Regions from separate parts of the Homo sapiens genome. Here regions 1 and 2 are each linked to region 3. The links come from fine-mapping of genetic effects on gene expression. A gene starts in region 3. Each other region holds a variant in brackets. All regions are shown on one strand. Distances are between the middles of the regions. Region 1 has its middle 18 kb from the start of WEE1. Region 2 overlaps DENND5A (DENN domain containing 5A). Region 3 holds the start of DENND5A (DENN domain containing 5A).

The links. PIP is the estimated chance that this variant, and not a neighbour inherited with it, causes the effect.
Region 1: its variant is the best candidate, but not a certain one, in a credible set for the expression of DENND5A in whole blood (INTERVAL, PIP 0.88).
Region 2: its variant is the best candidate, but not a certain one, in a credible set for the expression of DENND5A in whole blood (TOPMed, PIP 0.50).

The regions. Positions count from the first base shown.
Region 1 is chr11:9,549,939-9,560,637 of GRCh38, forward strand. No RefSeq gene overlaps it. Among named protein-coding and RNA genes, the nearest start is that of WEE1, 18 kb to the right of the region's middle. RefSeq lists a cis regulatory region at 1,860-2,488. The variant T/G (reference allele first, on the strand shown) is at 5,536.
Region 2 is chr11:9,234,138-9,244,836 of GRCh38, forward strand. All of the region lies in intron 1 of DENND5A (DENN domain containing 5A), which reads right to left. Among named protein-coding and RNA genes, the nearest start is that of DENND5A, 26 kb to the right of the region's middle. The variant T/C (reference allele first, on the strand shown) is at 6,393.
Region 3 is chr11:9,259,901-9,270,599 of GRCh38, forward strand. DENND5A (DENN domain containing 5A) reads right to left here and starts at 5,450. Exons shown (of 23, transcript NM_015213.4): 1 at 5,061-5,450. The coding sequence starts at 5,169. RefSeq lists silencers at 963-1,022, 4,892-5,251, 5,302-5,401 and enhancers at 3,982-4,321, 4,482-4,601, 5,682-5,751.

The DNA.
Region 1 (10,699 bases), 290 kb after region 3:
TCTGATCTTTGATGTTACAACTGTAACTGTTTCAGGGTGCCACAAACCGTGCCCATACAAGATGGTGAATTTAATCTATAAATGTTGTGTGTGTTCTGACTACTGCATGGACTGGGTGTTCCTCTGTCTCTCTCCCTCTACTGCAACCTCCTCATTTCCTGAGACACAAAAATACTAAAATTAGGCCAGCTGGAACCCTACAGTGGCTTCTAAGTGTTCAAATGAAAGAAAGAGTCACACATCTCTCATTCTCAAAAGCTAGAAATAATTAAGCTTAGTTAGGAAGTCATGTCGAAAGCTGGGACAGGCTGAAAGTTAGTTAGCTAAGTTGTAAATGCAAGGGAAAAGCTTTTGAAGGAGATTAAAAGTGCTACTCCAGTGAATACACAAATGAGATAAGAAAGCAGAACAGCCTTATTGCTGATATGGAGGATGTTTGAATGGTCTGGATAGATCAAACCGGCCACAACATTCCCTTAGGCCAACGCAAGGCCCTAATTCCCTCCCTTTTTTTTTTTGAGAGGAAGTCTCTGTCGCCCAGGCTGGAGTACAATGGTGTGATGTCAGCTCACTGCAACCTCCGCCTCCCGGGTTCAAGTGATTCTCCCCACTCAGCCTCCCCAGTAGCTGGAATTACAGGTGCCCGCCACCACGCCTGGCTAATTTTTGTATTTTTATAGAGATGGGGGTTTCACCATGTTGGCCAGGTTGTTCTCGAACTTCTGACCTCAGGTGATCCACCCGCCTCAGCCTCCCAAAGTGCTGGGATTACAGGTGTGAGCCACTGCGCCCGGCCCAATCAATATTATTATTAATATCCCCATTAAAGTCAGGAGCTAGACAAGGATTCTCACCACCTCTGTTATTTAATGTTGTTCTGGAAGTGCTAGTTAATGCAATTAGACAATGGAATAAAAGTCAAAATACTAAAGTGGATGAGAGCATTATTATCAATTACCTGATTGTCGGCCTAGAAATCCAAAATGATCAAATGAATAGTTGTTAGAACTAATACAAGAGAGGCCGAGCGTGGTGGCTCACGCCTGTAATCCCAGCACTTTGGGAGGCCGAGGCGGGCGGATCACGAGGTCAGGAGATCGAGACCATCCTGGCTAACACGGTGAAACCCTGTCTCTACTAAAAAATATAAAAAATTAGCCGGGCATGGTGGCGGGTGCCTGTAGTCCCTGCCACTCGGGAGGCTGAGGCAGGAGAATGGCGTGAACCCGGGAGGCAGAGGTTGCAGTGAGCCGAGATCACGCCACTGCACTCCAGCCTGGGCGACAGAGGGAGACTCTGTCTCAAAATAAATAAATAAATAAATAAATAAATAAATAAATACAAGAGCACAGAATATTCTTTCTATATTTCTTTTATTTGCACTTATTTTATAATGGTTATTTTTCTGTGCTGTGTTGTTTCTAACAATTGGCTGACAAGCATACTGACAGAGCCAATTGTTTCTAACAATTGGTTTCAAGCACACAGGACCCTGAAAGTCAGCAGAGCTTGGTAGTGGAGGCTGAGAGTGGGGATGGGATGGGCAGAAACAGTTACAGCTTGGATCCCTCAAAAACCTTAAATGGGGCTGGGTGCAGTGGCTCACGCCTGTAATCCCAGCACTTTGGGAGGCCGAGGTGGGCAGATCACTTGAGGCCAGGAGTTCGAGGCCAGCCTGGCCAACATGGTGAAACCCCATCTCTACTAAAAATACAAAAATTAGCTGGGCGTGGTGGCTGTGCCTGTAATCCCAGCTACGTGGGAGGCCGAGGCATGAGAATCACTTGAACCTGGGAGGTGGAGGCTGCAGTGAGCCAAGATCGTGCCACTGCACTCCAGCCTAGGGGACAGAGCAAAACCTTGTCTCAGAAAAACAAAACAAAACAAAAACCTTAAATGGAAGGCAGGCGATGGCAGTCAACATCAGCCAGAGTGTGTGTGAGCAATCCTAATGTTCTGAGGCTAGAATGGGGTTGGTGGAGGAGACACAACAGAGCCTTTAACGCTGCTCTTGACATTGCACTGCACCACATTGAAGTGAGGCTACAATGAACCAGAGGGATCCAGGAAGCCCTCTTCCTTATCAGCACCTCTCCACGGACTGCAGGCAGAGCAGAAAGCTGTTTGTCTGACGGTGGCGGGAAGGTCATTCCAGATGAAGAAACCAGATTAAAAAACAGAAGCACAGGCTCCTTTCCCAAGAGCAAAGCTAGAGGAGGGACAAAGCCACGTGAGGAAATGAGGAAGGGTCAGGCATATGTGGCTTGAAAGAGAGGAGAGCTCTAAGTATATCAGAAAAGGCAAGGGGATGGCTCTTCAGGACTCATGTCGTAATTCTGTCTGCCCTATCCTGTTTCAGAGATGACAAGGCCTTCCTCCTGGCTCTCTCTTTAGTAGGCACCTAAGCACTTTGACTTATTGTTCTCTCATTCAATCCATGCAACAACTCTTAGAAGTCAGATTTTTTGACAGTTTTTAAAATTTACTTATAAAAATTTATTTTTAATTTTCGAGGGTATGTAGTAGGTATATATGTTTATGGGGCATATGGGATATTTTGATACAGCCATACAATGTGTAATAATCACATCAGGGGAAATGAGGCATCCATCCCCTCAAGCATTTATCCTTTGTGTTATAAATAATCCAATTATACTCTTTTAGTTTTTTTTTTTTTAGAGATGGAGTCTTGCTCTGTCACTCAGGCTGGAGTGCAGTGGCACGATCTTGGCTCACTGCAAACTCTGCCTCTCAGGTTCAAGCAATTCTTCTACCTCAGCCTCCCAAGTAGCTGGGATTACAGGCATGCACCACCATGCCTAGTTAATTTTTGTATTTTCAATAAAGACGGGGTTTCACCATGTTGGTCAGGCTGGTCTCAAACTCCTGACATCAGGTGATCCTCCCCCCTCGGCCTCCCAAAGTCCTGGGATTACAGGCATGAGCCACTGCGCCTGACCTGTATGTCTCCTTTTGATAAATGTCTATTCAGATATTTGGTGAGCCACTGTGCCCGGCCAATCCAGTTTTAAAATGGGCAAAAGATCTGAATAGACATTTATCAAAAGGAGACATACAGATCAGGCACAGTGGCTCATGCCTGTAATCTCAGGACTTTGGGAGGCCGAGGCGGGTGGATCACCTGAGGTCAGGAGTTCGAGACCAGCCTGACCAACATGGTGAAACCCTGTCTCTACACAAAAAGTTAGCTGGGCATGGTGGTGCATGCTTGTAATCCCAGGTACTTGGGAAGCTGAGGCAGGAGAATTGATTGAACCCAGGAGGGGGAGGTTGCAGTGAGCCGAGATTGCACCACTGCACTTCAGCCTGGGCTACAGAGCAAGACTTCATCTCAAAATAAATAATAATAAATAAATGAGGCCGGGCACGGTGGCTCACACCTGTAATCCCAGCACTTTGGGAGGCCGAGGCAGGCAGATCACGAGGTCAGGAGATCAAGACCATTCTGGCTAACACGGTGAAACCCTGTCTCTACTAAAAATACAAAAAAATTAGCCGGGCATGGTGGCGGGCGCCTGTAGTCCCAGCTACTCAAGAGGCTGAGGCAGGAGAATGGCATGAACCCGGGAGGCAGAGCTTGCAGTGAGCTGAGATGGCACCACTGCACTCCAGCCTGGGCGACATCGAGACTCCATCTCAATAAATAAATAAATAAATAAATAAAATTAGATTATTAGATTTTTTCCTATAGAGTTGTTTGAGCTCCTTATATATTCTGGTTATTAATTCCTTGTCAGAAGGATAGTTTGCAAATATTTTCTCCTATGCTGTGGGTTGTCTCTTCACTTTGCTGTTTCCTTTGCTGTGCAGAAGCTTTTAAACTTGATGTGATCTCATTTGTCCATTTTTGCTTTGGTTGCCTGTGCTTGTGGGGCATTATTCAAGAAACCTTTGCCCAGTCTAATGTCCTGGAGCGTTTCCTCAATATATTCTTTAGTAGTTTCATAGTTTGAGGTCTGAGATTTAAGTCGTTAATCCATTTTGATTTGAGTTTTGTATATAGTGAAAGACAGGGGTCTAGTTTCATTCTTCTGCATATGGATATCCAGTTTTCTCAGCACCATTTGTTGAAGACGCTGTCTTTTCTCCATTGTATGCTCTTGGCCCCTTTGTTGAGAAATGAGTTCACCTTAGATGTATGGATTTGTTTCTGGGTTCTCTATTCTGTTCCATTAGTCCATGTGTCTGCTTTTATGCCTGTACTATGCTGTTTTGGTTACCACAGTTCTGTAGTATAATTTGAAGTCAGGTAATGTGATTCCTCCAGTTTTTTTGTTTTTGTTTTTGTTTTTTTTCTCAGGATAGCTTTGGCTATTTTGGATCTTTTGCAGTTCCATATAAATTTTAGGATTGTGTTTTCTCTTTCTGTGGAGAATGTCTTTAGTATTTTGATAGGTATTGTATTGAATACATAGATTACTTTGGATAGTATGGACATTTTAACAATATGGATTCTTCCAATCCATGAACATGGACTATTTTTCCTTTTTTAATGTCCTCTTCAATTTCTTTCAATAATGTTTTATAGTTTTCATTGTAGAAATCTTCCACTTCTTTGGTTAAATTAATTCCTAGGTATGTTATTTTATTTGTAGCTATTGTAAATGGGATTACTTTTATGATTTTTCACATTGTTTACTGTTGGCATATAGAAACATTTTTTATTATTTTTTAATTTTTAATTTTAATTTTTAGTTAGTTATTTTTTGAGACGGAGTCTAGCTCTGTCACCAGGCTGGAGTGCAGTGGCGTGATCTCAGCTCACTGTAACCTCCGCCTCCCGGGTTCAAGCAATTTTCCTGCCTCAGCCTCCCAAGTAGCTGGGATTACAGGCACACACCGCCATCCCCAGCTAATTTTTGTACTTTTAGTAGAGATGGGGGTTTCACCACATTGGCCAGGATGGTCTTGATCTCCTGACCTCGTGATCTGCCCACCTCAGCCTCTGAAAGTGCTGGGATTACAGGCCGATTTTAAAATTTATTTTAATTTATTTTTTATTTTTTATTTTTTTGGGGGAGGATGAAGTCTTACTCTGTTGCCTAGGCTGGAGTGCAGTGGTGCGATCTCAGCTGACCGCAATCTCTGCCTCCCAGGTTCAAGTGATTCTCTTGCCTCGGCCTCCTGAGTAGCTGGGACTATAGGTGCGCACCACCATGCTTGGACAATTTTTGTATATTTAGTAGACACAGGGTTTCACCATGTTGGCCAGGCTGGTCTTGAACGCCTGACCTTGTGATCCACCCGCCTCTGCCTCCCAAAGTGCTGGGATTACAGGCTTGAGCCACCATGCCTGGCCTAGAAATGATTTTTATATGTTATGTTCTCTTTTTTTTTAACCCAATAATAGCTGTGTGTACTGATATATGTTGATTTTGCATGTTGACTTTTGTATATTGTTTTATTTCCTGCAAGTTTACTGAATTTGTATATCTGTTCTAATAATTTTTTAGTGGTGTCTTTAGGTTTTTCTAAATATAAGATCATATCATCTGCAAACAAGGATAATTTGAT[T/G]TCTTCCTTTCCAATTTGGATGCCCTTTCTTTCTCTTTCTTGTCTGATTGCTCTAGCTGGGACTTCCAGTACCATGTTGCATAACAGTGATGAAAGTGGGCATCCTTGTCATGCTCTAGATCTTAGAAGAAAGACTTTCAGTTTTTCACCATTGAGTATGACACTAGCTGTGGGTCTGTCATGTAGGGCTATGTTGAAGTATGTTCTTATTTTTTTTTTTTTCCAGACAGAGTTTCACTCTTGTCACCGAGGCTGGAGTGCAATGGTGCAATCTCGGCTCACTGCAACCTCCGCCTCCTGGGTTCAAGTGATTCTCCTGCCTCAGCCTCCTGAGTAGCTGGGATCACAGGTGTGCGCCACCATGCTTGGCTAATTTTTTTGTATTTTTAGTAGAGATGGGGTTTCACCATGTTGGTCAGGCCGGTCTCGAATTCCTGACCTCAAGTGATCCACCTACCTTGGCCTCCCAAAGTGCTGGGATTTCAGGTGTGAGCCACCGCGCCCGGCCAAAACATGTTCCTTCTACACCCAGGTTTTTTTAGGGTTTTTATAATGAAGGGATGTTGAATTTTATCAAATGCTTTTTCAGTGTGAATTGAAATGATAGTATAGTTTTGTCCCTCATTCTGTAGATATGATGTATTGCATTGATTGATTTGCATATGACATCCTTGCATCCTTGCGTCCTTGCATCCCTGGGATAAATCTCACTTGGTCATGATGAATCATCTTTTTAATGTGTTGTTGAATTCAGTTTGCTATTAAGGTGAGTGCAAAACTATTGCAGTTTTTGCATTGTTGGAATTTGCCGTTTGATGTTGGAATACATTCTTCAATAAATGTGGTTAGGTCATACATCATTTTAATGGACATTTCTCGCTTTATGTTTTCTTGCTAATGACTTATTATTTGTTGTTTATTTTATGTTTATTTTAGACTACGGAAATTATGTTAGACAAAAAGCAAATTAGAGCAATTTTCTTATTTGGGTTCAAAATGGGTCATAAAGCAGCAAGAAAACTCATAACATCAATAAGGCATTTGGCCCAGGAACTGCTAATGAATGTACAGTACAGTGGTGGTTCAAGAAGTTTTGCAAAGGAGACAAGAGCCTTGAAGATGAGGAGTGTATGGCCAGCCATCAGAAGTTGACAATGACCAATTGACAGCAATCATCAAAGCTGATCCTCTTACAACTACATGAGAAATTGCCAAAGAACTCCACCTCGACCATTCTATGGTCATGTGGCATTTGAAGCAAATTGAAAAGGTGAAAAAGGTGGGAAAAAAAGGTGAAAAAAAGGTGTCTTGATAAGTGGGTGCTTCATGAGCTGAGCAAAAATTTTAAAAAATGTTGTCTTGAAGTGTTGTTTTCTCTTATTCTATGCAATAACAGTGAACCATTTCTTGATCGGATTGTGACATGTGACAAAAAGTGGATTTTATACAACAACTGGTGACGACCAGCTTAGTGGTTGGACTGAGAAGAAGCTCCGAAGCACTTCCCAAAGCCAAACTTGCACCAAAAAAGGTCATGGCCACTGTTTGGTGGTCTGCTGCTGGTCTGATCCAGTATAGCTTTCTGAATCCTGGCAAAACCATTACATCTGAGAACTATGCTCAGCAAACGGACGAGATGCACCAAAAACTGCAACAACTGCAGCCAGCATTGGTCAACAGAAAGGGCCCAATTCTTCTCCAGGACAACACCCAAACACACGTCACACAACCAACGCTTCAAAAGTTGAGCAAATTGGGCTATGAAGTTTTGCCTCATCTGCCATACTCACCTGACCTCTCACCAACTGACTACCACTTCTACAAGCATCTCAACAACTTTTTGTACGGAAAACGCTTCCACAACCAGCAGGATGCAGAAAATGATTTCCAAGAGTTTGTTGAATCCTGAAGCATGGATTTTTACACCATAGGAATAAAGATTTCTCACTGGCAAAAATGTGTTGATTGTAATGTTTCCTGTTTTGATTAATAAAGATGTGTTTGAGCCTAGTTATAATGATTTAAAATTTACAGTCTGAAACCGCAATTACTTTTGCAGCAACCTAATAGTATTTGGTTGAGGATTTTTGCATCAATGTTCATCAGGGATATTGGCCTGTTGTTTTCTTTCTTTTTTCTTTTCTTTCTTTCTTTTTTTTTTTTTTTTTTGATGTGTCTTTGTCTGGTTTTGCTATCAGGGTAATAATGGCCTCATGGAATGAGTTTGAAAGTATTCCCTCCTCCTCAATTTTTTTGAATAGTTTGAGTAGGATTGGTATTAGTTATTTAAATGTTTGGTAAAATTCATCAGTGAAACTATTGAGCCCCAGGCTATTCTTTGCCAGCAGACTTTTTATTTTGGCTTTGAAATTGTTACTTACTATTGGTCTGTTAAAGTTTTGAATTTCTTCATGGTTCAACTCAGTAGGTTTCATGTATCTAGAAATTTATCTATTTTTTTCTAGGTTTTCCAATTTGTTGGCATATACTTACTCATAGTAGTACCTAAGATCCTTTGAATTTCTTGGTATCAGTTGTAACGTCTCCCTTTTCAAAACCTCTCATTTTATTTATTTCGGTCTTCTCTCTTTTTTTCTTAGTCTGGCTAAAGGTTTGTCATTTTGTTTATCTTTTCTTTCTTTCTTTTTTTTTTTGAGACGGAGTCTCGCTCTGTCACCCAGGCTGGAGTGCAGTGGCACGATCTTGGCTCACTGCAAGCCCCGCCTCCCAGGTTCACGCCATTCTCCTGCCTCAGCCTCCCGAGTAGCTGGGACTACAGGCGCCCACCACCAGGCCCAGCTAATTTTTTGTATTTTTTAGTAGAGACGGGGTTTCACCGTGGTTTCGATCTCCTGACCTTGTGATCCCCCCCACCTCAGCCTCCCAAAGTGCTGGGATTACAGGTGTGAGCCATCACGCCCGGCCTTATTTGTCTTTTCAAAAAATGATTTTTTTGTTTTCATCCTTTGTATTATTTGTTTCAATTTCATTTATTTCTGCTCTGGTCTTTATTATTTCTTTTCTTCTACTGACTTTGGGTTTGGTTTGTGCTTGCTTTTCTAGTTCTTTAAGAGACACCATTAGGTTGTTTACCTGAAGTTTGTATGTTTGTTCATTTGTTTGTTTGAGACAGAGTCTCACTCAGTCACCCAGGCCGGAGCGCAGTGGCCAATCTTGGCTCACTGCAACCTCCGCCTCCCAGGTCCAAGCAATTCGCATGCCTCAGCCGCCCAAGTAGCTGGGACTATAGACATGTGCCACCGTGCCTGGCTAATTTTTTTGGTATTTTTAGTAGAGATGGGGTTTTGCCATGTTGCCCAGGCTGGTCTCAAACTCCTGAGCTCAAACAATCTGCTCAGCTTGGCCTCCCAAAGTGCTGGAGTTACAGGCATGAGCGACTACACCCAGACTTTTTATCTTTTTTGATGTAGGCACTTATAGCCATAAACTTCCCTCTTAGTACTGCTTTCACTGTATCCCACAGGTTTTGATATGTTGTGTTTCCATTATTGTTTCAAGAAATTTTTAAATTTTCTTATTAATTTCTTAGTTCACCCACTGGTTATTCAGGAGCATATTGTTTAATTTTCATGTGTTTGTATAGTTTCTAAAATTCCTCGTTATTGATTTCTAGTTTTATTTCATTGTGGTCAGAGAAGATCCTTGATATTATTTTTTTTTTTTATGCTTTAAGACTTGTTTTGTGGCCTCACATATGATCTGTCCTTGGGAATGATCCATGTGCTGAGGAGAAGAATGTCTATTCTGTGACCATTGTGTGAAATGTCCTATAAATATCTATTAGGTCCATTTGATCCATAGTGCAGATTAAGTCTGATGTTTCTTTGTTGATTTTCTGTCTGGATGATCTGTCCAATGCTGAAAGTGGGGTGTTGAAATCTTGTGCTATTATTGTAGTGGAGTCTGTCTCTCTCTTTATCTCTAATAATATTTGCTTTATATATCTGGGTGCTTCAGTGTTGGGTGCATATATATTTACAATTGTTATATTCTCTTGCTGAATTGACCCCTTTATCATTATGTAATGACCTTCTTTGTCTCTTTTTATAGTTTTTGTCTTTTTTTCTTGAGACGGAGTCTCACTCTGTCACCCAGGTTGGAGTGCAGTGGTGCAATCTCAGCTCACTGCAACCTCCACCTCCTGGGTTCAAGCAGTTTTCCTGCCTCAGCCTCCTGAGTAGCTGGGATTACAGGTGTGTGCCACCATGCCAGGCTAATTTTTGTATTTTTAGTAGAGATGGGGTTTCACTATGTTGGCCAGGCTGGTCTCGAACTCCTGACCTCAGGTGATCTGCCCGCCTCGGCCTCCCAAAGTGCTGGGATTACAGGTGTGAGCCACCACACCCAGCCTTGATTTTGTCTTGAAATCTGTTTTGTCTGTTATAAGCACAGCTACTTCTGCTCTTTTTTTAGTTTCCATCTGCATAAAGCATCTTTTTCCATCCCTTTATTTTCAGTTTATGTGTGTCTTTATAGGTGAAGTGTGTTTCTTGTAGGCAACAGATCATTGAGTCTTTTTTAAAAAAAATCCATTCAGCCACTCTGCATCTTTTGATTAGAGAGCTTAGTCCATTTACATTCAATGTTATTATTGATAAGTAAGGACTTACTCCTGCCATTTTGTTATTTGTCTTCTGGTTGTTTTTGGTCTTCTCTTCCTTCTTTCCTTCCTTCCTGTCTTCCTTTTAGTGAAGGTGATTTTCTCTGGTGGTATGTTTTAATTTCTTGTTTTTTATTTTTTGTGTATCCATTGTATATTTTTAGATTTGAGGTTACCATGAGGCTTGCAAATAATATCTTATAACCCATTATTTTAAACTGATGACAATGTAACACTAATTGTGTAAACTAACTAATAAACAAAAAGGAAACTAATAAAAACTAATACAAACTTTAACTTTGTCTCCCCACATTTTAATTTTTTGTTGTTTCTATCTTATTGTACTATGTCTTGAAAAGTTGTTGTAATTATTATTATTATTATTATTATTATTATTATTATTATTTTGAGATGGAGTCTTGCTCTGTTGCCCAGGCTGAAGTGCAGTGGCACGATCTCAGCTCGCTGCAAACTCTGCCTCCTGGGTTCAAGTGATTCTCCTGCCTCAGGCTCCCGAGTAGCTGGGATTATAGGCATGTGCCA
Region 2 (10,699 bases), 26 kb before region 3:
ACTGCACCCCCAGCCTGGGCAACAGAGCAAAACTCCGTCTCAAAAAAAAAAAAAAAGGCAACTAATATACCCTCCAAACCACATTCCTTTACTCACCCCAATTCTGTAGCAAACTCACCAGCTTTCCTAAGAAAGAGAGATTCAAAAGTGCCCAAACCTCAATCTTTCCCACCGATCCCCCCCCCAAAAAAATGAGCAAAAAGAGAAATTATAACCAGTATACAGACAATTCACAATACCAATATAAAGAATGAGTAATTTTTTTTCAATCTACTTGAGTAGTAGTCAACGAAATACAGATTAAAACACGACGACAGCAAAAAATGAAAAACAAGTATTAATGAGGATATGGAGAAAGTGGAAACCTTGTTGGGAACAGGCCCCCCAAAATCTGGCCATAAACTGGCCCCAAAACTGGCCATAAACAAAATCTCTGCAGCACTGTGACATGTTCGCGATGGCCCTGACGCCCACGCTAAAGGTTACGGGTTTACCAGAATGAGGGCAAGGAACACCTGGCCCACCCAGGGCAGAAAACCGCTTAAAGGCATTCTTAAACCACAAACAATAGCATGAGCGATCTGTGCCTTAAGGACGTGCTCCTGCTGTAGATAACTAGCCGAACCCATCCCTTTATTTCGGCCCATCCCTTTATTTCCCATAAGGAATACTGCTAGTTAATCTATAACCTACAGAAACAATGCTTATCACTGGCTTGCTGTTAATAAAGGCGCGGGTAAATCTCTGTTCAAGGCTCTCAGCTCTGAAAGCTGTGAGACTCCCGATTTCCCACTCCATACCTCTATATTTCTGTGTGTGTGTCTTTTACTCCTCTAGCGCCGCTGGGTTAGGGTCTCCCTGACCCAGCTGGCATCCGCAAACCTGAAACATTGCTAGTGAGAATGTAAAATGATGCACTGCTGTGAAGACATTTTGGCAGTTTCTTAAAGTTACTATAAAGTTCAGAGTTACTATATGACCCATCAATTCCATTCTTGGATATATACATAAACAGGTGTTCAGACAGAAACTTGTACATGAATGTTCATAGCAGCACTATTCACAACAGGCAAAAAGTGGAAACAACCCCAGTGTCCATCAACAGATGAAGGAACAAAATATGGTACGTATTATTCATACCATATAAATATCCCAATAATACAATATTATTCAGCCATAACAAGGAATAAGGTGCTGACACATGCTACAACATGGATGAACCTTAAAAACATCCTGCTAGGCTGGGCGGGGTGGCTCACGCCTGTAATCCCAGCACTTTGGGAGGCCAAGATGGGCAGATCACTGGAGGTCAGAAGTTCGGGACCAGCTGGCCAATGTGGTAAAACCCTGTCTCTACTAAAAATACAAAAATTAGCTGGGCACGATGGCGGGCACCTGTAATCCCAGCTACTCAGGAGGCTAAGATAGGAGAATTGTTTGAACCCAGGAGATGGAGGTTGCAGTGAGCTGAGATCGCGCCACTGCACTCCAGCCTGGGCGACAGAGCAAGACTCTGTCTCAAAAAAAAAAAAAAGAAAAAAAATCACGCTACCTGAAAGGAGCCAGACACAAAAGCCAAACACAAAAGGCCACATGTTGCATGATTCCACTTACATGAAACATCCAGAATAGGTAAATCCAGAGAGAGAAAGCAGACTACTAGTTGCCACAGGCTTGGGAGACAAGGAAATGAGAAGTAACTGTTTAATGAGTGCAGCATTTTCTTTTGAGGAGATGAAAATGTTCTGAAACTACATGATGCTGATGGCTACACAAAACCATAAATATACTAAACACCACTGAATTACACATTTTTAAACGGGCTAGGTGCAGTGGCTCATACCTGTAATCTCAGCACTTTGGGAGGACAAGACAAGAGGACTGCTTGAGACCAGGAGGTCAAGACCAGCCTAAGCAACAAGGTGAGAATCCATCTCTACAAAAAATTTAAAAATTAGCCCAGTAGTCCCAGCTACTCAGGAGGCTGAGGCAAGAGGATCACATGAGCCCAGGAGGTCGAGGCTGCAGTGAGCCATGTTTGCACCACTGCACTCCAGCCTGGGCAACAGAGGGAGACCCTGTCTCAAAAAAAAAAAAAAAACAAATAAAGTTCGCTGGGCGCAGTGGCTCGTGCCTATAATCCCAGCACTTTGGGAGGCCGAGGCAGGCGTATCACCTGAGGTCAGGAGTTCGAGATCAGCCTGGCCAATATGGCGAAACCCTGTCTCTACTAAAAATGCAACAATTAACTGGGCATGGTGACGGGCACCTGTAATCCCAGCTACTCAGGAAGCTGAGGCAGGAGAATTGCTCAAACCCAGGAGGCAGAGGTTGTGGTGAGCCAAAATTGCACCACTGCACTCCAGCCTGGGCGACAAGAGCAAAACACCACCTCAAAAAAAGAAAGAAAAAAAAAAGAAATATTTAGCATTTTTAAATAGTAAATTAAAAATGGAAGACACAAGCTAGGCATTGGGCACAACCCTGTAATCTCAGCTACTCGGGAGGCTAAGGCAAGAAGACTGCTTGAGCCCAGGAGTTTGAGACCAGCCTGGGCAACAAAGCAAGACCTCTGCCTCGAAAGAAAGAAAAAGAAAAAGATGAAAAGGAAGAGAGAGTGAGAGCAAAAAGGAAGGAAGGAAGGAAGACAGGCAGGCAGGCAAAGGATACAAAATTGTATTTCTCTGATGATCCCAATTTTATAAATATATATTATGTGTATGTATATATTATTTCATTGTGACTATGTTTGAAGTTTTGATATATTTCCTGACAACCTGTTTTTAATGCACAGAAATATATTTAGAACACATACAACAAAATATTCGTAACAGAAAAAGAGTTTCCACAAATCAATCAGAAAAAAAGATAAACACCACAACAGAAATATGGACAAAAGGCCTGAACAGACAATTCATAGAATAAACAAATGTATATGAACTATATGAAAAGATGTTCAGCCTAATAATTAAATTCAGATTAAAACAAGATATGTTTGGGCCGGCACGGTGGCTCACGCCTGTAATCCCAACACTTTGGGAGGAAGAGATGGGCAGATCACCTGAGGTCAGGAGTACAAGACCAGCCTGACCAACATGGTAAAACCCCGTCTCTACTAAAAATACAAAAAATTAGCCAGGGGTGTGGTGGCACACGCCTGTAATCCCAGCTACTTGGGAGGCTGAGGCAGGAGAATAGCTCTTGAACCCAGGAGGCAGAGGTTGCAGTGAGGCAAGATTGTACCACTGCACTCCAGCCTGGGCAGTAAGAGTGAAACTCCGTCTCCAGAAAAAAAGATATGTTCTTCCTAGCAGATTGGAAACGTTTCAGAAAAGCGGTAACACTTTATTACAGGTATAAAGAAACTGGAATGTTAAACATTACTAGCAGAGGTCTAAATTGGCACAATTTTTAAGGAAAGTAATTTAGCAATATCTATTAAAATTTAAAATGCACATTTCTTGGGCCAGGTGCAGTGTGGCACATGCCTGTAATCCCAGCACTTTGGGAGGCCGAGGCAGACAGATCACCTGAGATCAGGAGTTCGAGACCAGCCTGACCAACTTGAAACCCCGTCTCTACTCAAAATACAAAAATTAGCCGGGCGTGGTGGCAAGCACCTGTAGCCCCAGCTACTAGGGAGGCTTAGGCAGTAGAATCGCTTGAACCCAGGAAGCAGAGGTTGCAGTGAGCCGAGATTACACCACTGCATTTCAGCCTGGGCGACAGAGCGAGGCTCCATTTCAAAAAAAAAGTACATTTCTTGGATTCACCAAAGTCCAGTTTTAGCAATTAATGCTCCAGAAAAACCCCTACAAGTGTGTAAAAATAAGTGTACATGGATATTTGAAAAAAGAAAAATCTTAAATACTCCACGGGTCCACCAGAAAGATCTTTGTTTTGATGTGGGATCATCTTTTAAGATGTTGTCTGTTATCTCATATACAACATGTTAATTTGATATGAATTCAACTTGAGTGGGTTTTTTGAGTGGGTCTCTGCTCCTTATAATTAACTCTTAACTAAGATCGATGGAATTTCAGGAGCATACTCACGATACAGTATCAAGAAATATTCATGATAGAACATCAAGTGAAAAAAGTCAAAACAAAATTTTACATTACACATTATCACTCTGTTAAAATATATACACATACACCTACACATAGTAAAATCTGGAAAGAACTGATCTGGGTGATGATTAAATGCATGTGTGTGTGTGTATATATATATATTAAGCTATATACTTATATACTTAGAATTTGTGCACTTTACTGTCTTTAAATTACTTTTTTTTTTTTTGAGATGCAGTCGCGCTCTGTCACCTAGGCTGCAGTGGCGCCATCTCGGCTCACTGCAACCTCTGCTTCCCGGGTTCACGCCATTCTCCTGCATCAGCTTCCCGAGTAGCTGGGACCACAGGCGCCCGCCACCAAGCCTGGCTAATTTTTTATATTTTTAGTAGATGGGGTTTCACCATGTTAGCCAGGATGGTCTCGATCTCCTGACCTTGTGATCCGCCCGCCTCGGCCTCCCAAAGTGCTGAGATTACAGGTGTGAGCCACTGTGCCCGGCCCAAAAATATTTTTTAACTGAAAGGAACTATATAAAGGCATCAACATGCTTATAAAGCCTAATTCCAGATAAAGGGATAATGAGTGAATTATTTCCACATCCTTCTATAATTTCTTTTTTCTTTTTTTTTTTTTTGACACCTAATTTTCACTCTTGTTGCCCAGGATGGAGTGCAGTGGCTTGATCTCGGCTCATTGCAATTTCCGCCTCCTGGGTTCAGACGATCCTCCTGCCTCAGCTTCCTGAGTAGCTAGGATTACAGGTGCACGCCACCACACCCGGCTAATTTTTGTATTTTTAGTAGAGACCAGGTTTCACCATGTTGGCCAGGCTGGTCTTGCACTCCTGACCTCAGGTGATCTGCCCACCTCAGCCTTCCAAAATGCTGGGATTACAGGTGTGAGCCACTGCGCCCGGCCTACATCCTTCTACAATTTCTAAGTTTTCTATTAGAAACTGTATTTTAAAACTCAACATTTTATTTATTTATTTATTTATTTAAGAGACAGGAGCCTCACAACGTTGCCCACGCTGGACTCAAATTCACGGGCTCAAGCAATCTTCCTGCCTCAGCCTCCCAAGTAGCTGGGACTACAAGTGCACACCACCACACCTGGCTAAACTTTTTTTTTTTTTTTTTTTGAGACAGGGTCTTGTTCAGTTGCCCAGGCTGGAGTACAGTGGTGTCATCATGACTCACGGCAGCCTCAACCCCTCAGACTCAAGCAATCCTCCTGCCTCAGCCTCCCAAGTAGCTGAGACTACAGGCATGCACCACTACACTCAGCTTTTTATTTTTTGTAGAGACAAGGTCTTGCTATGTTGCCCAGGCTGGTCTCGAAATCCTGGGCTCAAGCCATCCTCCTGCCTCCGCCTCCCAAGTAGCTGAGACTACAGGCATGCACCACTACACTCAGCTTTTCATTTTTTGTAGAGACGAGGTCTTGCTATGTTGCCCAGGCTGGTCTCGAAATCCTGGGCTCAAGCCATCCTCCTGCCTCTGCCTCCCAAAGTGCTGGGATTACAGGCATGTGCTACCATGCCTGGCCAACGTTTTATTTTTAAAGAGAGAAAAATGCCATTCCTTATATGGATGACCTTCATGTTTCTTTCCTATCCCAAGAGTTCAAATCATGGTTCCCTCACTTTCTAGTTGTGTCCCTCTCTTTCAACCCTCAGATTCTATAATTTATGTATAGTCCCTCGGGTATTTTTCCACATATTAAGTGATTATTAAATTAATCAATGAATAAATCATAGAGATTATGTTTTTGTTCAGGGTCACACCCAGAGCTACGCCCTCTATAGTAAATTTTCCAAGACATAAACTGCAAAGCTAGATAATAGTACTCTTTCCCTCTCTTGAACCCCAACAACACACCATCATCTGTTCCTTTTAAAGAACTGATCCTAGGCTGGGCGTGGTGGCTCACGTCTGTAATCCCAGCATTTTGGGAGGCCAAGGCTGGTCAGGAGTTTGAGACCAGCCTGGCCAACATGGTGAAACCCCATCTCTACTAAAAATACAAAAATTAACCAGGCGTTGTGGTGAGCACCTGTAATCCCAGCTACTCGTTGAGGCTGAGGCTGGAGAATCGCTTGAACCCGGGAGGTGGAGGTTGCAGTGAGCCAAGGTTGCACCATTGCACTCCACCCTGGGCGACAAGAGTGAAAACTCCGTCTCAAAAACAAACAAACAAACAAAAACTGATCCTGACTGGGCGCAGGGGCACTCGCCTGTAATCCCAACACTTTGGGAGGCCAAAGCAGGCAAATTACTTGAGTCCAGGAGTTAGAGACCAGCCTGGGCAACGTGG[T/C]GAAAACCCATCGCTAGAAAAAAGACAAAAAATATACAGGATTGGTGGCACCTGCCTGTAGTCGCAGCTACTCAGGACGATGAGGTGGGAGGATCACTTGAGCCCTGGAGGCAGAGTTTGCAGTGAGCTGAGATGGTGCCACCGTACTCCAGCCTGGGCAACAGAGTGAGACCCTGTCTCAAAACAAAAAAAAAGAACTGAAGAACTGATCCTTTCCTGCCTTGTTTCAGTGTGCCTGCCCTTCTCTTCTCTAGCACTCAACATAGACCCTGATAGGGGTTATAGGTGTTGATTTTATTCCTGACAGGCAACTACCCATGACAGGATCACAAAACCTCAAGTAGAAACAAAAAATGTGGCTGATAGATGTGGTATGAGGTATGTTAACAACCAGCTAATAATTCAACTTCTAAACTTAAGCAGTCCAAAATTTGGAAGTTCTTTCATGTGAATAGTTGTCTTGACAGAGACTCATCTTCCCTAGTAACTCTGTCTGTGTATGTGCATGTCTGTGTGTGATGTTTGTGTATTCTTCCCCTCATGTAATCCTCACAAGCTGATCCAAGTCCCCATAACTAGAAAGTGAGGAAGCCATAATTTGAAACCAGAACTGAAAGACTCTAAAGCCAAAGCTCTACAGTTATTCGGGTACTGAACTTAAAGCTACATCAGTCCTAAGAATTTGCAGTCATGTAGGTGCGTAACATTAAAACTCTTACAGTAGCCAAAACTGTGGTTCTCAAACCTTAGTATGCATCAGGACAGTGGCTTGTTAACATACAGGTTTCTAGGCCCCATCCCCAGAGTTTATGATTCAGCGGGTAAAGGGTGGGGTTAAAATGTACATTTCTAAGAAGTTCTCAGGTGATGCTGATACTACTGGTCCAGAGACCAGACAACGAGAACCACTGGCCTATAAAGCCCTACATCTTTCCCCCACACTCCCTCTCCCTTCCTCTCTAATCTCATCTTCCCACCACTTGTCCCCTCACTTACTACCTCCAACCTCAGTAACATTGTAAACAATTCTAATACATCAAGTATACTCCTAGCTTATGGCCCTCGCACAGGCTCTTCTCTCTGCCTGAAATACGTTTCTCCACATATACATATGGCTCACTCCTTTGACTCCTTAGAATTCTCCTGAAATTGTCATCCTCTCAGTGAGGTATACCCTGACCATCCTATTAAAAGTACAACATCAGCTGGGCGCGGTGGCTCACGCCTGTAATCCCAGCACTTTGGGAGGCCAAGGCGGGCGGATCACCTGAGGTCGGAAGTTCAATACCAGCCTGATAAATGTGGAGAAACCCCATCTCTACTAAAATTACAAAATTAGCCGGGCATGGTGGCGCATGCCTGTAATCCTAGCTATTCGGGAGGCTGAGGCAGGAGAATCGCTTGAATCTGGGAGGTGGAGGTTGTGGTGAGCAGAGATTGCACCATTGCGCTCCAGCCTGGGCAACATGAGCGAAACTCCGTCTCAAAAAAAAAAAAAAAAAAAAAAGTACAACATCTGTCTCCACCCTGCCCTAACATTCCTGATCCCATTAACCCTGTTTACTGTTTCCACAGCACTTTTCACTTCCTAACATACTATGTAAATTACTGGTTCATTATGTTTATTTTTCAATGTCTCCCTCCACTAAAACCAAAGCTTCACAAAGGCAGTTTCACTCATTGATGTGTCTTAAGAACCTAAAATAGTGACTAGTAAATAACGGGAACTCAGTAAATAAGAGCTGAAGGAGGGAATAAAAAACAGAGAAAACTAACTTTGAGATCTTCTAGACAATCACTGATTGCAAGACACTCACTCTCAATTATAAACATACCTTCGTTATATCATTTATCACAGTGCATTGTCATTATTGGCTTACACGCCTAACCCCTCAGAAGACTATGAGCCCCTTAAGGACAGTGACTGTCTCACTTACACATCTTTGCAAACAAGTGCCCCATCACTAAGTTGGTCTTTCAATAACACAAAAGTAGAAGACTTTAGAGACAGGGAGAACAGGCTTCCAATTCTTGCTTTATAGTCTCGGGCATGTTATTCAAACTCTCTGCACTTTAGTTTCCTAATCTCCAACATGGGGATAATACCATCTAATACCTGGCATTGAAATGTATTCAATAAAAAAACAACCATTAACTTAAATATCATCTATGAATAACAGGGATGGAATGTTACCAGCCTCATGTTTTTGGCCCCCTATGACCCACAGTGTACTAGTGAGCAGGATGGTCAGCTGAGGCTAGCATAAAAGGGGGTCGAGGCCAGGCGTGGTGGCTCACACCTGTAATCCCAGCACTTTCGGAGGCCGAGGCGGGTGGATAACGAGGTCAGGAGTTCGAGACCAGCCTGGCCAACATAGTGAAACTCTGTCTCTACTAAAAATACAAAAATTAGCCAGGCGTGGTGGCACTCACCTGTAATCCCAGCTACTCGGGAGGTTGAGGCAGGAAGATCACTTGAGCCCAGGAGGCAGAAGTTGCAGTGAGCTGAGATTGCACCACTGCACTCCAGCCTGGGCGACACAGCGAGACTCTGTCTCAAAAAAAAAAAAAAAAACAAAAAAAAAAACTGAGGCGAGTAAGGCTAATTGGAATAACTGCTCTTCTGGAGACTAACTCAATGACTTTGGCCTCATTAAATGCACCACACTCATAACTAACTGAGCTAAGTAGTTAACAGAGCTAGATGGGCAGACTGACAATCCTCCACAAAACACTAAACATTCTTCTAGTAGATAAAATTCAAAATGTACTACTTTTAATACGCAGGGGAAAGAATGTACTTCACACAGATGTTGTGAGAAAATGGGGTGGGGTATATTAGATTAAATATTTAACAAAGAAAGGGATTACACACTACGGTTGACCCTTGAACAACATGGGTTTCAACTGTGTGGGTACACTTATACATAGATTTTCTTCCACCTCTGCCACTCCAAGACAGTAAGACCAACTCCTCCTCTTCCTCTTCAGCCTACTCAGTGTGAAGATGATGAGCATAAAGACCTTTTAAATGATCCACTTCCACTTCCTGAAGGATAAATATATTTTATTTCCCAGCCAGGCACGGTGGCTCACACCTGCAATCCCAGCACGTTGGGAGGCCAAGGTAGGCGGATTACAAGGTCAGGAGTTTGACACCAGCCTGGCCAATATGGTGAAACCCTGTCTCTACTAAAAATACAAAAATTAGCCGGGCGTGGTGGTGGGTGCCTGTGGTCCCAGCTACTTGGGAGGCTGAGGCAGGAGAATCACTTGAACCTGGGAGGCAGAGGTTGCAGTGAGCCAAGATCACACCACTGCACTCCAGCCTGGGCGACAGAACGAGACTCCATCTCACACACACAAAAAATAATATTTTATTTCCCTTATGATTATGTTTTCTCTAGCTTACTTTATTGTGAGACTACAGTATATAATACATTTAACATACAAAATATGTGTTAATTAACTATTTGTGTTATTGGTAAGGTTTCCAGTCAGCAGTAGGCTGTTAGTAAAGTTTTCAGGGAGTCAAAAGTTACTTGTGGATTTTCTGCTACACAGAGAATTAGTGCCCCTAACCCCCAACTTGGTTCAAGAGTCAAGTGTATTTGGACATACAGAACCTCAGAGTTCAGCAAAACTGGATGTTGGTTTAGCAGATGATACTCCTAAATTTCTATTGTATTTCTGCTGTGGTTTAAATGTGTCCTTTCCAAAATTCAGGTGTTGCCAATGTGATAGTATGAAGAGGTGAGGCCTTTAACAGGTGATTAGGCCATGAGAGCTGCTCCCTTGTTAATGGGATTAAGGCCTTTTTTAATTTATTTATTTTATTTATTTTTATTTATTTTTTTGAGACGGAGTTTCGCTCTTGTTGCCCAAGCTGGAGTGCAATGGTGTGATCTCAGCTCACCGCAACCTCCGCCTCCCAGGTTCAAGTGATTCTCCTGCCTCAGTCTCCCAAGTAGCTGGGATTACAGGCATGTGCCACCACGCCCAGCTAATTTTGTATTTTTAGTAGAGACCGGGTTTCTCCCTGTCAGTCAGGCTGGTCTTGAACTCCTGACCTCGGGTGATCCGCCCGCTTCGGCCTCCCAAAGTGCTGGGATTACAGGCATTAGCCACCACGCTCAGCCTATTTTATTTATTTATTTATTTTTGGAGATAAGGTCTGGCTCTGTCACTCAGGCTAGAGTGCAGTGTCACTATCTCAGCTCACTGCAACCCCACTTCCTGGGCTCAAGCAATCCTCCCACCTCAGTCTCCTGAGGATCTGGGACTACAGGCACACGCAACCCAGAAAG
Region 3 (10,699 bases):
CACCTGTGGTCCCAGCTACTTGGGAGGCTGAGGCTCAGAATCACTTGAACCAGACAGGCAGAGGTTGCAGTGAGCTGAGATCACGCCATTGCACTCCAGCCTGGGCAAAAGAGCAGGACTCCATCTCAAAAAAAAAAAAAAAAAAAAAAAGAGAGAGACTATTTCAGTGTAGTCTCAATTTTCTAGTAAGTTCATACAGCACACTGGCCAGTTTCCCATCTATCCTTATCCCTAGCCACTTCTCTTCAATTCCTGGCAAGAGCTTCTGCACAGAGCCTGGGAAAATTGGAGTACAAGATGAAAGAACCTAGGATACTTATATCTCAATGCTAGGTGCAGATCAGTTCAGAGGAACTTACAGATTCCAAGGTAAGAAATACGTCACAAGTATTTGGGAACCTTAATTCTCAAGCAGAGACAAGGAAAATAAACTCATGAACCCCATTTCACAGTAAAACCTTCTCCTGGGGTCACCTAGTGGTGACCATCAGAAACAAAGAAAAAGAAGATTCACCAGGACATTCGCCCATCAGAGGTAGAAAAAGAAACTGAACTCCACTATCATCTGCCTCCCCACTTACGATGTGCCAAAAATAATGGAAAACATAAATCAGAAGCAATTCTTCCAGATTTGCTTACCTAACTGACAAGTTCAAAAAGCCAACAAGCAGACACCATATCCTCAAGGTGGCTAAATCTGTGCTTTGCTCACATATTACCTTCTTCTCCTTCTAGCCCAAAGAGCTTCCTCAACCAGAAAACAAAATTAATTTTCACACATTCCTCAATTCCTTGCACAAAAAACAACTACATTACTTGCCTAAATGCTGAGTCTGCAAGAAAGGGAAAGAAGTGACAGGAAGAGATTCCTACAAAATCCAATTACCTCAGTCTATATTAAACACAGCAAGCTCTATGCTTATTTGGGTTTTTTTATTTTTTATTTTTAGTTGTATTTGTTTATTTGAGACAGGGTCTCACTCTGTTGCTCAGGCTGGAGTGCAGTGTCACAATCTCAGTTCACTGCAACCTCTGCCTCTGAGACTCAAGTGACCTTCTCACCTCAGCTTCCTGAGCAGCTGGGACCACAGGTGCATGCCACCACACCCAGCTAATTTTTTGTACTTTCTGTAGAGATAAGAGTCTTGCCGTGCTGCCCAGGCTGGTCTCAAACTCCTGGGCTCAAGCAATTCACCCACCTCAGCCTCCCAAAGTACTGGGATTACAGGTGTGAGCTACTGCGCCCAGCCTCCATGTTTATTTGTTGCAGACAGAGAGGAATGAATCTTAACCTTTCTCCACAAAACAAGAAGGAACACCGAGCATCTTTGATTTGCTTATTCTGGGTTCACTTTTTAAGAATGTAGATGCTACCTGAGCTATGTAAGTTAACTGTGTGGAGTGCACCTTCTTAGAGACTCCTTAATACCTTCTTGGAGAACCTGGCTACAAATTACAATTTCCTGTAGTTAGTTACTGAGTATGATATCATCAGTTTGGGAGCTACAAGGCAGGCTGAGGAGAGAAAATGCACCCTGGAGACTCTCAGGAAGAACCTGCTATTTGTACTCTGCTTTGTTTTATTCAAAGATTCCCTCTGGGAGTGGTGGCTCACGCCTGTAATCCTAGCATTTTGGGAGGCCGAGGTGGGCAGATCACTTGAGGTCAAGAATTCAAGACCAGCCTGGCCAACATGGTGAAACCCCATCTCTACTAAAGATACAAAAATTAGCCTGATGTGGTGGCACGCGCGGCTCATAATCCCAGCTACTCGGGAGGCTGAGGCAGAATTGCTTGAACCTGGGAGACGGAGGTTTCAGTGAGCCACTATTGCAGCACTGCATTCCAGCTGGGGCAACAGAGTGAGACTGTGTCTCAAAAAAAAAAAAAAAAAAAGATTCCCTCTGGATAGTTCAGATTCCCCTACCAACCCACCAGAAATGAAATGAAGAGGGAAAAAAAATCCTTCCAACACTGCATACTCTAACAAAGGCCACCTATCGGAAATGTGGTCTCGGCATTCCACTACTGCAACCACATTTTTAAAAAAACAGAAAATACCCCTCTTTACACATTTTATACAACTCATCCCCCTTTCTTTATTATCCCAATAAACTTTCACAAGGATATAATTTTAGCTTGCCAAAAAGCCAGATAATTAACACATATCCATTAAGACAGTAACATTTCTTTTTTAATGAAATGTTGAAAGACAGTTTTTAAACATTTTTGAAGGTCTACTTGATGAGATTATTTTTATTTACATTCTTTTTTTATAGATGAGGACCCTGACAGGGTTATCTCTAACTTGCTCCCAATCACAAAGATAGTCAATAGGAGAGCAGGAATATTACCCTAAACTCATGCTCTCGCTAACAGTTAACTTCCCAGCTTCATTCTTATGCTCTATCATTCGCAAAACATTCTATCTTCTCAAACCAAGTGTTCATACAATTTGACACTCAAAAACACGCATAAAAAAAAGTTTATTCCACCACCTTAGTTTCTTTTACTGAGAAGAATTATGTTGTTTTTAATATTTCTCAACATGTTAGTGTTTTCTAAAGACCTCCAGCCAGGCCAATGAGATGCAGTTTAATGTCATGAGAAGAGCACTGGACCAAGCAATTAACTAGTGTATACAGGCCCCACTGTCCTTCCTGGGCCTCATTTTCCCCTCTGAGGTCCCTTCCAACACCAATACCCTGAACCGAATTCCAAAAATTACATCAAAGTCACAAACTTACTACATATGAAAAAGATGAAAAACATCTGTACTATAAGAATTTGAAGACCTTAAAAGATAAACTTGAACAATTATTAGGTACTCATCAAAATAATTTTTTTTTTTTGGACGGAGTCTCGCTCTGTCGCCCAGGCTAGAGTGCTGGAGTGCAGTGGCGCGATCTGGGCTCACTGCGAGCTCCGCCTCCCGGGTTCACGCCATTCTCCTGCCTCAGCCTCCTGAGTAGCTGGGACTACAGGCGCCCGCCACCACGCCCGGCTAATTTTTTGTATTTTTAGTAGAGACGGGGTTTCACCCTGTAAGCCCGGATGGTCTCGATCTCCTGACTTCGTGATCCGCCCGCCTCAGCCTCCCAAAGTGCTGGGATTACAGGCGTGAGCCACCGCGCCCGGCCTAAAACTAAAATTTTTTTAAAGTAAATTAGAAACCATAAAACTACCCCGACAAAAAGCCTAATATTAATTATATTACTGCTTCATATTTTCTCCACCTGCTATTGAGGAAATAGCTCATTTTTTTCTAACCTTGTTAAAGCATGAATTTATCATGCTTTTTTCTTCTTTTTCTTTTTTCCCAGACAGAGTCTCGCTTTATCACCCAGACTGGAGTGTAGTGGCGCAATCACCCAGACTGGCGCAATCTCAGCTCACTGCAACCTCCCCCTCCTGGGTTAAAGCGATCCTCCTACCTCAGCCTCCTGAGTAGCTGGGATTACAGGCACGCGCCACGACGCCCGGCTAATTTTTGTATTTTTAGTAGAGACGGGGGTTTCACCATGTTGGCCAAATTGGTCTCGAACTCCTGACCTCAGGTGACCCGCCCGCCTCGGCCTCCCAAAGTGCTGGGATTACCCCTGAGCCGCCGGGTGGTGGGCCACCGCGCCCCGCCTAATTTTTTTTTCATAAGAAACACTGGGCCGGGCGCGGTGGCTCACGCCTGTAATCCCAGCACTTTGGGAGGCCGAGGCGGGTGGATCATGAGGTCAGGAGATCGAGACCATCCTGGCTAACAAGGTGAAACCCCGTCTCTACTAAAAATACAAAAAATTAGCCGGGCGCGGTGGCGGGCGCCTGTAGTCCCAGCTACTCGGGAGGCTGAGGCAGGAGAATGGCGTGAACCCGGGAAGCGGAGCTTGCAGTGAGCCGAGATTGCGCCACTGCAGTCCGCAGTCCGGCCTGGGCGACAGAGCGAGACTCCGTCTCAAAAAAAAAAAAAAAAAAAAAAAGAAACACTGGACTTTTTCTGGTGCCCAAAAACAAAACTGTCTTGTCATCGTTGAAGCCGAGTAAGATTAGTCAACAGGATAATCACTTTCGAAAGAGAAACTTTACAGTGACAGAAAAGTGAAAAGGAGTCCCCCTCATCAGGATGACACAACCTTAAAGTACAACCCGACAAACCTCCACCCACTTGAAACCCACTAACTGGAAACTCCAGACAAAAACTTATTTTCAAAACTGTTACAATTCAAAGACTCCAATGACAGTGCAGTGGAAAATTCACGGGGACTGTATAATTTTCACGGCCTTCTGCAGTGAGTGCCAAATCTGGTCAGGGCCCCATCTTTGACTCCCCTCATCACTTTCCCTTTCAAATATGACTTGAAACGCATCAGAACACACCAAGCCTCTCCAACTACAATGCTGCTACCCTTTTATTCACAAACGCCTCTGTCCTCATAAAGGACATAAATTACTTTTCAAAAAAGGCATGGCCCCGGGATACAAGCCCTTTCCAAGGCTAAGGGAGTTCCTACTCTTCTTGGTGCCGCCCAAGTTCACTTTATTACTTCATATCCCATCCAGACGCGCAGAGCTGCAATCTGACTCAGGGGGCCCAGCCCAGGGCTGGGGTATAACGGTTTTGAGGAACTAGTATCACAAGCTTCTTGGGAAGTGGCCAGATAAACTCACCAAGTTTTTGTTTTCCTTTTTTTTAAGTCTGGGTGGAACTTACTTTCACTAGGACGTGGGACGCCTTCCCTCCCTAATGGGTGCCAGAGGACAAGCTTTCCTTTATTTTAAACGAAGTCACTCAACCTACACCAAACTGAGAACACACAACCCTCCCTCTTTCTGGTCGCCGAAGACGTGGCCACTGCGCAGCGGGCCGTAGGTTTGGACCCCTCATGGCTCAGAGCCCCTCATCCGTTTCCCCCCTCCAGTCCAAAGCCCCCTTCGCCCGCGCCCGCCCTGGTCCTCCCGGCCGACACTCGCCCGGCTCCCGGGACAAAGCGGGGCTGAAGGAAGGTTTCTTCTGGGGTCCCCGACGACAGCGGGCGCGGGAAAGCGCCCCGGGCTCGGCGCGCACTCACCCGACAGCTCGTCCGGCTCCAGCCCGGTCTCCGTGTCCAGTCCGCAGATGACAAAGTAGTCGGCGAAGCGACTGGGCGCCGAGCCCCCTCCGCCGCCGCCGCCACTCATGGCGCCGGGGCCGAGACCGGCCGGGCAGTGCGGAGCGGCACCGAGCCCCCGCAACCCGGGCGCCCGCCCGTCCGCCCTCAGGCCGCCCCTCCCGCCGCCGCCGCTACCGCGGCTCGGGCCGCCGCCCCCGGCCCTGGCCCGGTCCCCTCGGCCGCCGCGGCTGCCGTGACGGGGCGGGGGGGCACCGGGCCGCCCCGCACCGCATCCTGGATGCCTTCCCCTCCGCGCCGCCGCCGCTGCAGCTAGCCGAGAGCGCCGCGGCCCGAGCGAGCCTGGAGAAGGGCGGAGAGCGCGTGGACAGCCCCCACCGTGACCCTCCTCCTACCGCGCCTGCGCAGGCGCCGTCTGGGAGGGGGCGGGCTCCTGGGGGAAAGGATGACGTGATGCTCTTCGGACCCCGCCGGCCGCAGCTTCCCGGGAGGTCGCCGCAGCGCAGCCGGTGACTGCTTGGTCGCCCGCAACTGCCACTCCCCCGGGATTGAGACTCCTTTAGGGAGGGCTGAGGAGGTGCGAGAAGAGTGGGCGCAGCCTGCAGAGCCGGGCATTTGGCCCATGCTCTGCCCCCAACCACCCACCCAGCAAGCAGAGGTCCAGAGATCTTAGCGCGGCCTTGCCATGAGGATGGGGTCTCACGACTGAGCTCGGAAGCTCACCTAATCCTAGCTGCAGCGTGTCAGCCTAGACCCCAGACAGGGCCTTCTCCCTGTCCTCTCTTTTGGCAGGGGCGGATGAGCCGGTTTTATATTTACCCTTATTTTACAGACGGGGAAACTGAGTCTCAGAAAGAAGCAAGGACTTATCCAAGGTTACGCTGAGTCTAAGAGACATAAGCCTGGTCTGGAATCCTGGGCTTGTGGTCAGCTCCCCGTTCCTCGCCGCTCCCACCTCCCAGCCTGCCCTTTTCCCACGCTCTCTCCTTTTTTCTCTGGAAGCCTCCAGAGGCGCCTGCCATTTGGGAGCTCCTCTTCCTCTTCACTCTGTGAAAACTCTCAGATCCACCCCTAAACCTGTTTTCCTGTAAGAGGATAGGGAGGAGGCGAAGGGAAACTTACCTATTGGTCCTTGTCCTAGGACCCTCCGATTTCCTTTCCCATAGAAGCTAGGCAGATGTGTCTTTGTTGGAAACTGGAGATCAGAGGCCAGAAAGGCAACACAGGTATAGTGGTCACTAGCATGGGCTCTAGAAAAAAATGCTCGGATTTCAATCCTGACGATCATTTACTTTTGACCTTGAGCAAGTTAATCTCTAAGTGCCTGGCGTCATGGTTTTTGAGACAATTACATAAGGTAAATGCAAGTACAGGTAAAACAATGAGAATACTGCCTGGAACATGGAAATCACTCAGTAAATATTACAGATTTTTTTTTTCAAGACGGAGTTCTGTCTTGTTGCCCAGGCTGGAGTGCAATGGCGTAATCTCGGCTCACTGCACCTCTGCCTCCCAGGTTCAAGTGATTCTCCTGCCTCAGCCACCCAAGTAGCTAGGATTACAGGCGCGCACCACCACACTCGGCTAATTTTTTGTATTCAGTAGAGACAGGGATTCACCGTGTTGGTCAGGCTGGTCTCGAACTCCTGACCTCAGGTGATCCGCCCTCCTCTGCCTCCTAAAGTGCTGGGATTACAGGCATGAGCCAATGAGCCCCCAGCCTGGATTATTATTATTGTTCCAGAAGGAAGTACTCTTACGGTTTGTTCTGGGAGGCTGCCACTAAGAGCTGTAGAAGGCAGCTGGCTTCCCCAAAGGCTGAGCCTAGGCTCTCTCCTAGGTTCTCCTGGGTACTTCTCTCAAATATTGTTTCCCTTGGGGAGGTTTACCTAGAGGTTATAGCCATTGTCTCTCGGAGCCATAGCACCTGTTCCTCCCTGTATCTAACCTGCCTGAACTAGGGGGAGAAAAGTGGGGAGGAGAAGGTTGCTTCAAAACGCCCATTCATGGTGATGCTCCACCCGTATCCTGCATGCTGGGGACACAGAGACAGTAGAGGGGGATTAGTGAGTTAAACAGTCACAGAGGCTGGGCGTGGTGGCTCACACCTGTAATCCCAGAACTTGGGGAGGCCAAGGCTGGCGGATCGCTTAAGGTCAGAAGTTCAAGACCAGCCTGACCAATATGGTGAAATCCCATCTCTACCAAAAATATAAAATTAGCAGGGTGTGGTGGCAGGCAACTTTAGTCCCAGCTCCTCAGGAGGCTGAGGCAGGAGAATCGCTTCAACTCAAGAGGCAGAGGTTGCAGTAAGCCGAGATCGTGCCACTGCACTCTAGCCTGGGCAACAGAATGAGGCTCTACCTCTAAATAAATAAATAAATAAATAAATAAATATGCCAGGCGTGGTGGCTGACACCTGTAATCCCAGCACTTTAGGTGGCCAAGGCAGGCAGATCACGAGGTCAGGAGATCAAGACCATCCTGGCCAACATGGTGAAACCCCATCTGTACTAAAATTATAAAAATTAGCTGGGTATGGTGGTGCCTGTAATCCCAGCTACTCAGGAGGATAAGGCAGGAGAATTGCTTAAACTCGGGAGGTGGAGGTTGCAGTGAGCCAAGATGGCGCCACTGCACTCCAGCCTGGCAACAGAGACACCCTGAAAAAAAAAAAAGAAAAAAAGAAAGTTACAGAGCACAGAAGGAGGACATCTTTCCAGATTGGGGAATGGTCAGGGAAGGTTTCCAGAAGGAGGTATATACTCTGACCTGAGTTCCAGAGGATCAACAGGAAGTTTCTCAGGTAAAAAGGGGCAGGGAAAGATGTTTAACTCAGTATGTGTAACAACAGGGAGCAACAGATAAAAGGGTATGTTCAGGCATCAACAAGTAATTCATTAACATTAAGATGGGAGATGGAGAGTTTAAAGGGAATGAAACCAGGGCAGGGGAGGAAGAAGGAGAACAGAGGAAGGAGGCATGGATTCAAATACCAGGCTAAAGAATTTATCCTCGGCCAGGCGTCGTGGTTCACACTCACGCTGGTAATCCCAACACTTTGGGCAGCTGAGGCAGGAGGACTGCTTGAACCCAGGAGTTTGAGACCAGAGTGGAGAACATAATGTGACCCCTGTCATAAATAAATAAATAAATAGTATTTTTTAGAAATAATTTATCCTATAAGATATATGAGTTGAGGATGAGTGAGGTAAAGTAAAGGAATTCAAGCCAAGGAGTGATATCTGACCCAAATCTGAGAATGATCACTCTAGGGGTGATGTGGAAAAAGAAATTTGAGAAAGGAATAAACGTCCTCAACTGAAAAGTCCAGAAACTTTTTATCCAAGGTGTCCAGGGTGATCTGGTGCTAGACGACCTCTCATATTAACTCAACTCGTAAAACACAAGTTAAAAACGAATGCATAACTGTATTAATTTGCCCTGGGAAATGTAACTGCTCAGAAGCCCAGAATACTCAACTGTGAAGTGATCTCCTTCCCGGTAGGAAATAAGTTTGGCAGAGTGATTGCTTCTTAGAGAGTCAGAAAATATAGAAAGGGATGCTCTTAAGATTTTTTCTTTTTTTTTTTTTTTTTTTTTCTGAGAGAGTCTCGCTCTGTCACCCAGGCTAGAGTGCAGTGGCGCCATCTCGGCTCACTGCAACCTCCGCCTCCCAGGTTCAAACGATTCTCCTGCCTCAGCCTCCCAAGTAGCTGGGACTACAGGCGCGCGCACCATGCCTGGCTAATTTTTTTTTTTTTTTGTATTTTTGTTTGTTTGTTTTTTGAGATGAATTCTCGCTCTGTCGCCCAGGCTGGAGTGCAGTGGTGATCTCTGCTCACTGCAAGGTCCGCCTCCCAGGTTCACACCATTCTCAGCCTCAGCCTCCCGAGTATCAGGGACTACAGGTGCCCGCCACCTGTAGTGGCTAATTTTGTTGTATTTTTAATAGAGACGGGGTTTCGCCCTGTTAGCCAGGATGGTCTCAACCTCTTGACCTCGTGATCTGCCCGCCTCGGCCTCCCAAAGTGCTGAGATTACAGGCGTGAGCCACTGCGCCAAGCCAAGATTTAATGTTTTTTTGTTTGTTTGAGACAGAGCCTCGCTCTGTCACCCAGGCTGGAGAGCAGTGGCACAACCTCAGCTCACTGCAACCTCTGCCTCCCGAGTTCAAGCTATTTTCCTGCCTCAGCCTCCTGAGTAGCTGGAACTACAGGCCTGCGCCACCATGCCGGGCTAATTTTTTTTTTAGTAGAGACGGGGTTTCGCCATGTTGCCCAGGCTGGTCTCGAACTCCTGACCTCAGGTGATCTGCCCACCTTGACTTCCCAAAGTGCTGTGATTACAGGCGTGAAGATTTAATGTTTAAATCCACTCCCACTCTTACTAGCTGTGTAAGCTGGGGTACATCAGTTAAACACTCTGAAATGAGAAGAGTCATTCTGACCCCTCACAGAATTGCACTGAAGATTCATAAATTAATGGAAAAAGGAATTTTTAAAATCTGGGACATAATATACTTTTAATAAGTGGCAATCTGGGACACCCATTTTAGCATGAGGAACATGAGAGAGCAAGTGGACATCTGAGGGAACATAACTCCAGGAGAGGGTGTGCGGCAGAGTGTGCCTGGAGTGTTCATGGAGCAATAAGGAAGCCAGGGTGGCTGGAGAGGGTTAGGGTGGGGAGGATTGGTGGAAGATGGTAGAAGGTGTGGTGGAGTTGGCTTGCAATTCAAAAACATCAATTTTCCCTTCCATAGTGTGTGGACCCGCCTCCTCAGGGACACTGCCCAGCCCTACTTGCATCCAGATGTGGCCATGTGACTAGTTCTCAACAATGGAATGTGTGTAGGACTTTATGTATGTCACTGCTAGGTCAGGGCACTTAAGAAGCAGATTAGACTTCTCCCTTCTTTCTATTTTTGCCTTCTACCAGCTAGAATTAGAAGATTCTGAGGCTCTAAGTAATGGTAAAGCACATGGAGGAAAGGCTCCAGCTGACCAAGAATACCCACACCGGACTGTCCTGTGAACAAAAAATAAACTTCAGTTGTGTGAAGCCACTGGTACTGTGGGGTTTATTTGTTACAACAGCTAGTATTAACCATCACCAAAGTAGATGTTGGGTAAGAGGATAAATCATGGAGAGCCTTGTAGGCACACTGGAAAGATTTTGCCATTGTCTGAATAAAATGAGAAATCACCGGAGAGTTTTGAGCAAAGGAGTGACACAATCTGACAGCTTAAAAAGAAACACGTAGCACTGTTTTAAGAACTTTACATATATTAACTCTAACTGGAATTTACCCCCGGACTCTAGCTTTATATACCCAACTGACTTGTCATCTTTTTTTAATTATAATTTTTTTTTTTTGAGATGCAGTCTCACTCTGTCGCCCAGGCTGGAGTCCAGTGGCACAATCTTGGCTCACTGCAAGTTCAGCCTCCCGGGTTCACGCCAGTCTCCTGCCACAGCCTCCCGAGTAGCTAGGACTACAGGCGCCCGCCACCACGCCCGGCTAATTTTGTTTTGTATTTTTAGTAGAGACGGGGTTTCACTTCGTTAGCCAGGATGGTCTCGATCTCCTGACTTCC